2 separate regions of the Homo sapiens genome follow, and region 2 is linked to region 1. The links come from fine-mapping of genetic effects on gene expression. Tissue or cell type: breast. Region 1 holds a variant in brackets; the other region holds the start of a gene. All regions are shown on one strand. Distances are from middle to middle.

Region 1 (5,965 bases):
GAGTTTTGTGCAGCTCAGATTCCACATTGGTAAGTGCTAAATTGTACATCTTTTTGCAAAGTGCCAGATGCTGTCCTAGTAGCTGAAATTCAGTGGAGACCAGGTCTTTCATGGGGCTCTCTGAGCAGCACGGTGGTCAAGGATTAAGCCAGCTGCTCTCAAATCTTCTGGTCTCAGAACCTGCTTTGTACTCTTAAAAATTATTGAGAGTTTCAGGCTGGGTGCAGTGGCTCACGCTTGTAATCCCAGCACTTTGGGAGGCTGAGGCGGGTGGATCACTTGAGATCAGGAGTTCGAGACCAGCTTGGCCAACATGGTGAAACCCCATCTCTACTAAGAATACAAAATTGTCGGGCGCGGTGGCTCACACCTGTAATCCCAGCACTTTGGGAGGCCGAGGTGCGCGGATCACAAGGTCAGGAGATCGAGACCGTCCTGGCTAACACGGTGAAACCCTGTCTCTACTAAAAATACAAAAACAAAATTAGCCGGGCATAGTGGCGGGTGACTGTAGTCCCAGCTACTCGGGAGGCTGAGGCGGGAGAATGACGTGAACCCGGGAGACGGAGCTTGCAGTGAGCTGAGATCGTGCCACTGCACTCCAGCCTGGGTGACACAGCGAGACTCCGTCTCCAAAAAAGAAAAAAAAGAATACAAAATTAGCCAGGCGTGGTGGTGCACGTCTATAGTCCCAGCTACTCGGGAGGCTGAGGCAGGAGAATCCCTTGAACCTGGGAGGCGGAGGTTGCGGTGAGCCGAGATCACGCCATTGCACTCCAGCCTGGGCGACAGAGTGAGACCCTGTCTCAAAAAAAAAAATTAAAAAAAATTAGAGTTTCAAGGAGCTTTGTTAATGTGCTTTATCTATTGCTTTTTTATTACATGAAAAGTTAAAACTGACATGTAAATTGGCCGGATGCAGTGGCTCATGCCTGTAATCCCAGCACTTTGGGAGGCCGAGGTAGGCGGATCATGAGGTCAGGAGTTTGAGCCTAGCCTGGCCAACGTAGTGAAACCCTGTCTGTACTAAAAATACAAAAATTGTTGGGCGCGGTGGCTCATGCTTGTAATCCCAGCACTTTGGGAGGCTGAGGCAGGTGGATCACCTGAGGTCAGGAGTTCTAGATCAGGCTGGCCAACATGGTGAAACCCCGTCTCTACTAAAAATACAAAAACAAAATTAGCCGGGCATAGTGGCGGGTGACTGTAGTCCCAGCTACTCGGGAGGCTGAGGCGGGAGAATGACGTGAACCCGGGAGACGGAGCTTGCAGTGAGCTGAGATCGTGCCACTGCACTCCAGCCTGGGTGACACAGCGAGACTCCGTCTCCAAAAAAGAAAAAAAAGAATACAAAATTAGCCAGGCGTGGTGGTGCACGTCTATAGTCCCAGCTACTCGGGAGGCTGAGGCAGGAGAATCCCTTGAACCTGGGAGGCGGAGGTTGCGGTGAGCCGAGATCACGCCATTGCACTCCAGCCTGGGCGACAGAGTGAGACCCTGTCTCAAAAAAAAAAATTAAAAAAAATTAGAGTTTCAAGGAGCTTTGTTAATGTGCTTTATCTATTGCTTTTTTATTACATGAAAAGTTAAAACTGACATGTAAATTGGCCGGATGCAGTGGCTCATGCCTGTAATCCCAGCACTTTGGGAGGCCGAGGTAGGCGGATCATGAGGTCAGGAGTTTGAGCCTAGCCTGGCCAACGTAGTGAAACCCTGTCTGTACTAAAAATACAAAAATTGTTGGGCGCGGTGGCTCATGCTTGTAATCCCAGCACTTTGGGAGGCTGAGGCAGGTGGATCACCTGAGGTCAGGAGTTCTAGATCAGGCTGGCCAACATGGTGAAACCCCGTCTCTACTAAAAATACAAAAATTAGCCGGGCGTGGTAGCAGGCGCCTGTAATCCCAGCACTCAAAGGGCTGAGGCAGGAGAATCGCTTGAACCCAGGAGGCGGAGGTTGCAGTGAGCCGAGATCAGGCCATTGCACTCTAGCCTGGGGGACAGAGCAAGACTGTGTCTCAAAAAAACAAAAAAAATTGACATGTAAAAATACTTATTCGCTAACTCATTTTAAAATGAGCTGAGATGTGCCACTGCAGTCCAGCCTGAGTGACACAGTGAAACTCCATCTCAAGAAAAAAAAAGAATACGAAAATTGCCAGGCGTGGTGGTGCACGTCTGTAGTCCTAGCTACTCAGGAGGCTGAATAAATCAGTGACATGTTAATATAAATATTTTTATGAAAATAAAAAGAACTGTCCCAAAAGAAAAAAAATTAGAAGACTGAATTTTTAGTTTTCCATATCTCTTTGAATGTAGAAGCAAATATGAAAATCCAGCTTCTGTCTTTTTATTTTTTTGAGATGGAGTCTTGCTCTGTTTCCCAGGCTGGAGTGCAGTGGTGTGATCTTGGCTCACTGCATCCTCCGCCTCCTG[G/T]GCTCAAGTGATTCTCCTACCTCAGCCTCCCGAGTAGCTGGGACCACAGGTGCATGCCACCACGCCCGGCAAATTTTTGTATTTTTAGCAGAGACGGGGTTTCATCATGTTGGACAGGCTGGTCTCAAACTCTTGACCTTGTGATCTGCCCACCTCGGCCTCCCAAAGTGCTGGATTACAGGCATGAGCCACCACGCCTGGCCAAGCTTCTGTCTTTAAAACATTTATTTATTTTTTTGAGACTGGATCTCACTTTTGCCTAGGCTGGAGTGCAGTGGTGCAATCATAGTTTACTGCAGCCTCGAACTCCTGGGCTCAAGGGATGCTCCTGCCTCAGCCTCCTGAATAACTGGGACTATAGTCGCACGCCACCACACCTCACCAACGTTTTTATTTTATTTCTTTGTGGAGTTCTTGCTATGTTGCTAGGGTTGGTCTCAAACTGTTGGCCTCAAGCAATTTTTCTACCTAGGTCTCCCAAAGTGTTGGGAGTATAGGTGTGAGCCACTGTACCTGACCCAGTTTCTGTCTTTTTTTTTTTTTTCTGGGGACAGAGTCTCACTCTGTTGCCCAGACTGGAGTTCAGTGGTGCAATCTGGGCTCACTGGAACCTCTACCTCTTGGGTTCAAGTGATTCTCGTGCCTTAGCCTCCTGAGTAGCTGGGACTACAGGTGCCCACCACCATGCCTGGCTAACTTGTATTTTTAGTAGAGACGAGGTTTTACCATGTTGGCCAGGCTGGTCTCGAACTCCTGACCTCAAGTTGATCCTGCCATCTCAGCCTCCCAAAATGCTTGGATTACAGGCATGAGCCACGCCTGGTCAGTTTCTGTCTTTTAAGGGAGACATTGATCTGTTGTGATAGGCTCTTATGGCTGAAGTTAAAATACAGCCTCAGCCAGATCTGTGGTTGAAAAAGGTAGGAGTATTTCACAGCTTTTCGGATAATTGTGGGTATTCTTCTTTGATGCTACAGCAAAACCCATCAAGTGATAGTTTTGTAGAGAGTAGTTGTGGAGTGGAATCTGAGACCGTATCAGTGAACCTCACAGGTCAAGAGGCAGAAAGGTCCATGATCAAGGTCCAGCAGAGTGGGTTCTGGTGCCGGCTCTCTTCTTGGCTTGCTGTGTCCTCACATGGTGGATAGAGAACAAGAGGGAGCCTTCTGGTGTTTTTCTTGAAAGGACACTAATCCTGTTGGATCAGGGCCCCACCCTCACGGCCTCCTTGAACCTTAATTACCTCTGTAAATGCCCCGTCTCCAAATATAGTCATGTTGGGGCTTAGGGTTGACTGTAACAGTTGATATCACCACCAGCCTTATCATAAGTTTTTTTTTTTTTTTTTTCTTTTTTTTGAGACAGGGTCTCGCTGTCGCCCAGGCTGGAGTGCAGTGGCGCGATCTTGGCTCACTGCAAGCTCCGCCTCCCAGGTTCATGCCATTCTCCTCCCTCAGCCTCCCGAGTAACTGGGACTACAGGCACCTGCCACCTTGCCTGGCTAATTTTTTGTATTTTTTTTAGTAGAGACGGGGTTTCATCATGTTCGCCAGGATGGTCTCAATCTCCTGACCTCGTGATCCGCCCGCCTCGGCCTTCCAAAGTGCTGGGATTACAGGCGTGAGCCACCGTGCCTGGCCTGTAAGTTTTTTAAATATTAGAAATTCGGCAAGTTCATGTTGTCAAACCCAAGTTTTTCAAAATCTTGAGTTTTACCATTGCAGCAGTTATGGTCAGCTGTTTCCTTTGCAGTAACAGCCCCCCTGGCTTGCATACAAGGCAGCGCCTGCCAGGTGCCTTTCTGAGTGGCTATAGTTGGCCAGCATTCTTTCAGGTGAAACGACCAGGAACAGCCTCTTCGTCTCACCACTCGTTCCATGCATGTGGTTCCTTGAAGGAACCACCTCACTTTGGTATGCAGCAGGTGCATTCTGCATGCTTCCCACGCCCTCACAGCACATGGAAACATCTGCTCAGGGTGAGACTTAACAAAATGCTCACTTTGTCCAGCATCTTCTTTTTTTTTTTTTTTTTTTTTGAGACGGAGTATTGCTCTCGTCACCTAGGCTGGAGTGCAGTAGCACAATGTCGGCTCACTGCAACCTCTGCCTCCTAGGTTCAAGCGATTCTCCCTGGGATTACAGGAACCCACCACCATCCCCAGCTAATTTTTGTATTTTAGTAGAGACAGGGTTTCTCCATGTTAGTTAGGCTGGTCTCAAACTCCTGATCTCGTGATCCGCCTGCCTCAGCCTCCCAAAGTGCTGGGATTACAGGCATGAGCCATCCTGCCCGGCTGTCCAGCATCTTCTGAAGTGAAGCTGGGGTGTTTGCTTTTGGTCTGTGAGGAATGTGACAGCAGTGACTTGTGGGCAGGGATGCACTGGCTGCAGCTTCCACGGGCACTGGGCTCTTGCCGGCTGCCAATGCTGCACTATCAGTGCAAGCCTCAATGAAGCCAAAAATGGAAGTCACGGCTGAGTGCTCTTAGGAAAGGGTCTTCACCTTGGGCTACTATGGAGAGGTTCAGGCAACCCAAGGGCCTCTGGACCACTGTGTCAACCTTCCCACCTTCATAATCCTGAAGGTAATGGACATACAGAATCTGTTCTTTCCACGGGGTCCTGTGAGAGAACAAAAGGGGGACTCAGTGTAGATATTCCACCTGGAGAAGGGCTGGGACTAGGCTGGGAGGTTTCTATGTGGACTTGAAGCCCCCAGGTTGAGTCTGGGCAGGAGCTGGGGTGGAGGGGAGGCCAGTGCTAACATCTTGAGAGAATGAGAGGGAGTGTTCCGGAAGTTGGAAGCTGAAAGTGACCCACAGGGATCAGCGTGGAGTCTGAGCAGACAGGACTAGCCTCTGTGGAATAGAGGCTCACACAAGGGAGGACAGAAGGATTTGAAAGCAGCACTGGAGAGCATGATGTTGATAGTTCGCATCTCTTCCTTCCCAGGAATTACGTGCCTTATTTATACTTCTTGTCATATTACATTGGCTCAGAGCATCAAAACAGTGTTCGTTAATCACAGTGCTCTTGTTCCAGATCGTGATGGGGGCTGCTCTGGTTACCCATTTTTGACTGAGTGTGAATTGACAGCTTCTCCATTATATTGATGAAGCATCCGTTTACATAGTTTTCTTCTTTTTTTTTATTTTGAGACAGATTCTCACTCTGCCACCCAGGCTGGAGTGCAGTGGTGTGATCTTGGCTCACTGCAACCTCCATCTCCCGAGTACAAGTGATTCTCGTGCTTCAGCCTCTTGAGTAGCTGAGACTACAGGTGGATGCCACCAAGCACAGCTAATTTTTGTATTTTTAGTGGAGACGGGATTTCGCCATGTTGCCCAGGCTGGTCTCGAACTCCTGGCCTCAAGTGATCTGCCTGCTGTAGCCTTCCAAAATGCTGGGATTACAGGTGTGAACTACTGTGTCTGGCCTGTTTATGTAGTTTTCTGAGAGTTCCTTTTTTTTTTTTTTCAAATCAGGAATAGATGTCGGATTTTACCAAATGCCTTTTTCAGATAACTT
Region 2 (5,965 bases), 78 kb before region 1:
CGTCCGTCCACAGGGCAGGTGTTAGGACCCATCCCAGGTACTTTTCAGGCCTATGTTTCCCCAGCCCCCAAATGTGATAGGATGTGGGGATGGGGTGGGGCTTCTGGCCAAGCCAGGCTGTGGTGGGGTCAGGGCTCTGGGGTGCACTTTGAGGTCTGGGCCAGCTCCCCCCTGGTTGAGACCCTTCCTGACCTGCAGAAGCGTCTGAGGGAGAGGGCGACTGACGCCTGCCTCGCACACATGGTGGGGTGCTGTAGGCACTTTGCACATAGTGATCTGTTGAGCCCTCCCTCGAGAGCCGTGGTGCCCTGGGCTGCTGAAGAGACAGAGGTCTGGATGCTTGTCCAGCGTCACACAGTGGGAAGGGTTGGCACCAGGATTCAAGCCCTGATTGACCAGCTCTGGATTTGTGTCCTAGCATGGAGACAGGCATAGTGTAAACTCAGTGCCTCATCCCCCAACCCAGCTGGCAGGAGAGGCTCTGCCCCCACCTGGGCTGGGCAGGGGTGCCGGAGAGCGAACCCCCAATACCTGGGGCTGGCCTGATGTCAGGAGACCCGTCACTGCCCCTTCCTAGGACCCAAGCTGTCCGCTTCCCTCCCCAGGCCCTGCTGTCCTTGTCTGCAATGGAGGAGGGTGGCTCTGTGGCCCCTGAGGCCCCCTCTCCTCGGGCCTGCTGAAAGAGCACTGTTTCGGGGCCATCGTGGCGATGCTATTCACCCATTTGTTTGGCAAATGTTTACTGGAGACATGGCTGGCCTGTGCCTTGGGGCCACTACAGGGACAGGACCTCCAGGACCCTCCTCCCGGCTCGGGCCCAGCAGAGACGGTGGACAGACCCCCAGGATCCGGGCCCAGCAGAGACGGTGGACAGACCCCCAGGATCCGGGCCCAGCAGGGGCGGTGGACAGACCCCCAGGATCCGGGCCCAGCAGAGACGGTGGACAGACCCCCAGGATCCGGGCCCAGCAGGGGCGGTGGACAGACCCCCAGGATCCGGGCCCAGCAGGGGCGGTGGACAGACCCCCAGGATCCGGGCCCAGCAGGGGCGGTGGACAGACCCCCAGGATCCGTGCCCAGCAGGGGCGGTGGACAGACCCCCAGGATCCGGGCCCAGCAGGGGCGGTGGACAGACCCCCAGGATCCGGGCCCAGCAGGGGCGGTGGACAGACCCCCAGGATCCGGGCCCAGCAGGGGCGGTGGACAGACCCCCAGGATCCGGGCCCAGCAGGGGCGGTGGACAGACCCCCAGGATCCGGGCCCAGCAGGGGCGGTGGACAGACCCCCAGGATCCGGGCCCAGCAGTGACGGTGGACAGACCCCCAGGATCCGTGCCCAGCAGGGGCGGTGGACAGATCCCCAGGATCCGGGCCCAGCAGGGGCAGTGGACAGACCCCCAGGACCCTCCTCCCGCCTCAGGCCCAGCAGGGGTGGTGGACAGCAGCCCAAGGGTATTCTGCATGGCAGCTGGAGCTGGGGTTCGGGGGCCCTGCTAGTCTGTGGTGGGGCCTGCCCAGGCTTCCTGGAGGCGGCGGCGGTGAAGGGGAGAATTCCTCGGTGTCTGCCTCCTTGTCAGACTTCGGGGCTGCGTCGCGGTTGCCCCAGCACAAAAATGAGGGCTCATCAACGTTTGCTGGGTGAGCAAAGCTTAGATGGGGTCACAGCTCCTCCGGGTTTCACTTTCCCCTCTGGACGGCAGGACTCTAACCCCTTATTGCAAGGGTACGTGGAGAGTGGGGAGGCCTCAGCCCAGCTCTCTCGCCCTCCTGGACCCCTCTTCTACCACTGTGGCAGCAGCCGCTCCTCCCAGCTTGGGCCACATCCAGACTTGGGGACATTCCCAGAATGCAGGAGGCTCCTGGACAATCAATAATTCAATAAAGCGCCAGGCGTCCGCCGGCTCCGGGTTGGTCCTGGGGATATGTTATCTTGCTGGCTCCAAGCACGAGGAGGCTGGGAACTGCTCAGCTCGGTTCCAGAAGAGGAAACTGAGGCGGGGAGGGCAGGGAGGGAGGGAGAGAAGGAAGCAGTGAAGGCCGGGGCTGGCAGATCACGAAGCAGCTGGCAGGAGGGGGGTCGGGGCCTCAGGAGGGGGGGACCCTGTGGTCTCAGGAACTGCCAGGAAGCCTGGGTTTGGACCTGGTCTTGCCCCCTATGGGTTTCTCCATCCGTGAATCACACGCATGTGCCTTCTCTCTTCGCCCCGACCCTCACGCTTTCCTGCTGTATTCCTGTTCCGGGCGTCACCACCCCTGCAGTTCTAAGCTGCACCTGTACGCTCTGTGGGCATCCTGCCCCTGCATCACCAGGGCTGGGGCCACCTCCCTCCGTCCCAGCTGTGTCCCCGGTGGCCAGGTCACTGTCCAGCATCAAGCGGGTGCTCAGGAAACGTTTGTCCATGAAATGAAGGAGCCCCCCCCTTCCAGGCTTCTTGTAGGGCTGCTGAGAGGTTGCCCATTTAGTAAGACCTGCTGTCCTAGCTGTTCGGTCCTTGTTTCTGGAAGGAAACCCCCCACCTTCCTCATCTACAGATTGAGAATTGCAGTAGGACCTGCGTACTGGGTTGTGTGAGAGTCAGAGACCCGCCAGGACGCTGGGAGGCTGGCAGGGAGGAAACGCTCCATCATAAACCCAGCTGCATTTATTACTGTTGCCGTCATTTAATTCGTCGTCGTTAGTCGGGAAAGCTCCTCGCCGGCAGCGAGTAGGGGGTCTGGGACCCTCTTCCGGTATACGGAGGCAGGGGCTTGGGAGTCCGACTTCCCGGAATCTGCGGGCGTGAGCGCCGGGGGTGGCCGTCAGCCAACCGTGACCACCTGCTTGTCTCCCACCGGCCCCCAGTCAGCCCCCGGGCCCTGGCGAGGCTCCTCCCTGCCACCAGCCTCCGGGGGCTGCGGGGAGACGGCCCCACCCCCTTCCCGCGGGGGCGGGGGCGCGGGCGCGGGCGCGGGCGGCCGTACTCGGAGGAATACGGCGGCGGCGGCGGCGGGGCTGGGCGGTTTCCCGCCGCGGGTGAATGAGTCCGACTGCGCTGCCGCCGCCGCCGCCGCCCGCATCGAAGCTCCGGCCGCGTCCCCCGCGCCAGCCCCGGGAGCCTGCGCGCCGAGACCCCTGCGTGTCTGCGAACAGACCTCCGGCCTCGGGCCATCACCCCGGGCAGGTAAGTCCGGGGACCCCGCCCGGTCTGCGGGGACCGCCGGGACCCCACCCCCCACCCCAAGCGGAGTCGGGGAGGGCTGGGGGCGGGGGGACACCGGGGAGTCGACTCGCTGCTCTCTCGGCCCCAGACCTACCGCCCCTCCCTTCCCCCACCCCGAACGCCTGGCCCTCCGGTCCAGGGAGGAGCCACAGGTGGGTGGGAGCCGGGGGGGCGGAGCTGGGACACCCCGGGGGTCCACCCACATCCGTGTCTTCCCCTGGGACTGAGCGCGGAACCCTTTGGAATGAGCGCTGAGATGCTCAAAACCAGAGTGGGGGCGGGCGAGGGGCCAGTCTCCTCTGGGAGCTCCCCGGAGAGTCAGAGCGCGGCCCCCACGCCCCTGGGCTTGGTGCTGGGAAGTTAAGCGGGATCTCTCCGGAAAAAGGTGGGGGGAACCCGCCTCACTCCTGTCCTGGGCCGCCGCGCCTGGGCGGGACGCCCCCAGGGGACCCCTCCACCCCCACCCCGCCGGCAGGGCCCTGCCGGGAGGCCCCACAGGGAGCAGGTGCCCAGGGCCCTCTGCCAGCCGCCCCCCACTGCTCCTGACCCCTGCTTCTCTTCCCAGACGCTGCAGCCCCTGTCCGGGCCTCTTGCCTGCCGCCCCCATGAGAAAAACCAACATGTGGTTCTTGGAGCGGCTTCGGGGGTCTGGGGAAAACGGTGCTGCCCGGGGCGTGGGGAGTGAGGCGGGGGACAAGGCCTCCAAGGGGCCCCTGTACAGCAATGTGTTGACGCCCGACAAGATCCCCGACTTTTTCATCCCCCCCAAGCTGCCCTCGGGCCCCGCGGAGGGCGAGGGACAGGCCGCGCTGGGCCCCTCCACGTCGGAACAGAACCTGGCCTCTGCGGCCCCCCGCCAGACCCCACGGAGCCCCCGGCTGCCTGCCAAGCTGGCAGCCGAGAGCAAGAGCCTGCTGAAGGCAGCCACCCGGCACGTGATCCAGATCGAGAGTGCCGAGGACTGGCTGTCCGAGGAGGCCACTGACGCCGACCCCCAGGCCCAGGGTGCCATGTCCCTGCCCTCGGTGCCCAAGGCCCAGACGTCCTACGGCTTCGCCATGCTGGCTGAGAGCCCCCACACGAGGCGCAAGGAGTCTCTGTTCCACAGTGAGCACGGGGCTCTGGCCCAGGTGGGCTCCCCAGGGGCCGGGCGCCGCCGGGCAGCTGCCAAGGCCAACGGGGGTGATGGGGGCCCCAGGGAGGCTGGCGGGGCCCTCATGAGCCCCGGCCGCTACTTCAGTGGCGGGGAGAGCGACACAGGGTCCTCGGCCGAGTCCTCCCCCTTCGGGTCCCCTCTGCTGTCCCGCTCCGTGTCTCTGCTCAAAGGTTTCGCCCAGGACAGCCAGGCCAAGGTGAGCCAGCTCCGGCACTCCGTGGGCCGCCACGGCTCCCTGTCTGCGGACGACAGCACCCCGGACGCCAGCCCCGGGAGCCGGCGCCGCCTGACCCGCCGGGCACCCCCGGAACCTGGCCCCGAGTCGGGCCAGGCGCGTGGGGAGCACACGGTCCACGTGGGCCCTCGGGGCAGCGTGCGGCTGCTGGCCGAGTACGAGGCCGGCCAGGCCCGCCTGCGGGTGCACCTGCTGGCCGCCGAGGGCCTCTACGACCGCCTGTGCGACGCCCGCAGCATCAACTGCTGCGTGGGCCTGTGCCTGGTGCCGGGCAAGCTGCAGAAGCAGCGCAGCACCATCGTGAAGAACAGCCGCCGCCCCGTCTTCAACGAGGATTTCTTCTTCGACGGCCTGGGGCCCGCCAGCGTCCGGAAACTGGCCCTCAGGATCAAGGTGGTGAACAAGGGCAGCAGCCTCAAGCGGGACACGCTGCTCGGGGAGAAGGAGCTGCCCCTGACCTCCCTGCTCCCCTTCCTGTAGAGCGGGGACCTGCTCGCTGTCCGCTCGGGTGCAGAGGGCAGACCCCGGTCTCTCCTCCACACCGGGTGCTGGCGGGCGGGTCCGCTGGCTTGGGCTGGGGCTGGCCGGGGAGGGGCTCACACTCAGGCTGGGCTGGGCGCTGATGCTGTAGCTGACGCAGGGTTTCCTGGGTCACCCGATGCTGACTGGAGTATTATTTTTCATGAATTAATTTCTCCTTTGGAGGAGGAGGAGGAGGAGGAGAGGGGCCTCGGGGGAAGAGAAGGGGCCACTTCGCGGGGCAGAGGGTCCCCCTTTGCCCCTCCACACTGCCTCGCGCCTTTCACGCAGAGTTCTAGAAGGAGGTTCTCAGGGGTTCAGGAATCCGTGCATGTGGCCAGGGCGGGGCCGTGGACAGGGAGGTGACAAGTCTTGGAGCCCACAGTCTCCTTCACTGCACGTGTGTCTTCCTCCCCCACAGCCTGCCGCCATCCAGTTCCCACCCCGCGGAGAGCAGGGCCTCGCGGCCACACCAGGCCCAGGCTCTGCCCGGGACGCCCCCTCCCAGGGGTCAGGCTTGGCTCTGGGAGACCCCAGCTTCCCAGGCTCCGGTGGGGAGTGGGGCCAGGCGAGGGTGCCCTGACGAGGGTGGGCGCGGAGGGAGCAGCCGCTGCCACAGTCGGAGCAGAGGAGGTCTTGGCAGAGGTCCGCGGGGAGGAGACGGCTCTCCTGGCCTGTTTTCCTCCAACACTGTCGCCGCTGGCTTTTTGGGTACAGGCCCGTCTGGCCATTTCTGCTGTGGCGCCGGAGGGTCTTGCTCAGAGATGCCCAGAGAGCAGCCCTATGGCCCATCCGTCCTCGCTGGGGGCTGCCACCCCGTCGCCCTTTTGTCCAGCGTCTGCAGCTGGGAGCGACA

The links. PIP is the estimated chance that this variant, and not a neighbour inherited with it, causes the effect. A credible set is the group of variants that fine-mapping cannot tell apart.
Region 2: C2CD4C starts here. The variant in region 1 is the best candidate, but not a certain one, in a credible set for the expression of C2CD4C in breast (GTEx, PIP 0.53).

Annotation. Positions count from the first base shown.
Region 1 is chr19:328,375-334,339 of GRCh38, reverse strand. All of the region lies in intron 3 of MIER2 (MIER family member 2), which reads left to right. Among named protein-coding and RNA genes, the nearest start is that of MIER2, 13 kb to the left of the region's middle. RefSeq lists a silencer at 5,965. The variant G/T (reference allele first, on the strand shown) is at 2,436.
Region 2 is chr19:406,201-412,165 of GRCh38, reverse strand. C2CD4C (C2 calcium dependent domain containing 4C) reads left to right here and starts at 3,019. Exons shown (of 2, transcript NM_001136263.2): 1 at 3,019-3,160; 2 at 3,765-5,965. The coding sequence starts at 3,805. The coding sequence ends at 5,070. It overlaps LOC124904607 (proline-rich proteoglycan 2-like), which reads left to right. Exons shown (of 2, transcript XM_047439790.1): 1 at 1-37; 2 at 606-2,644. The coding sequence starts at 710. The coding sequence ends at 1,873. RefSeq lists enhancers at 4,276-5,156, 5,157-5,965.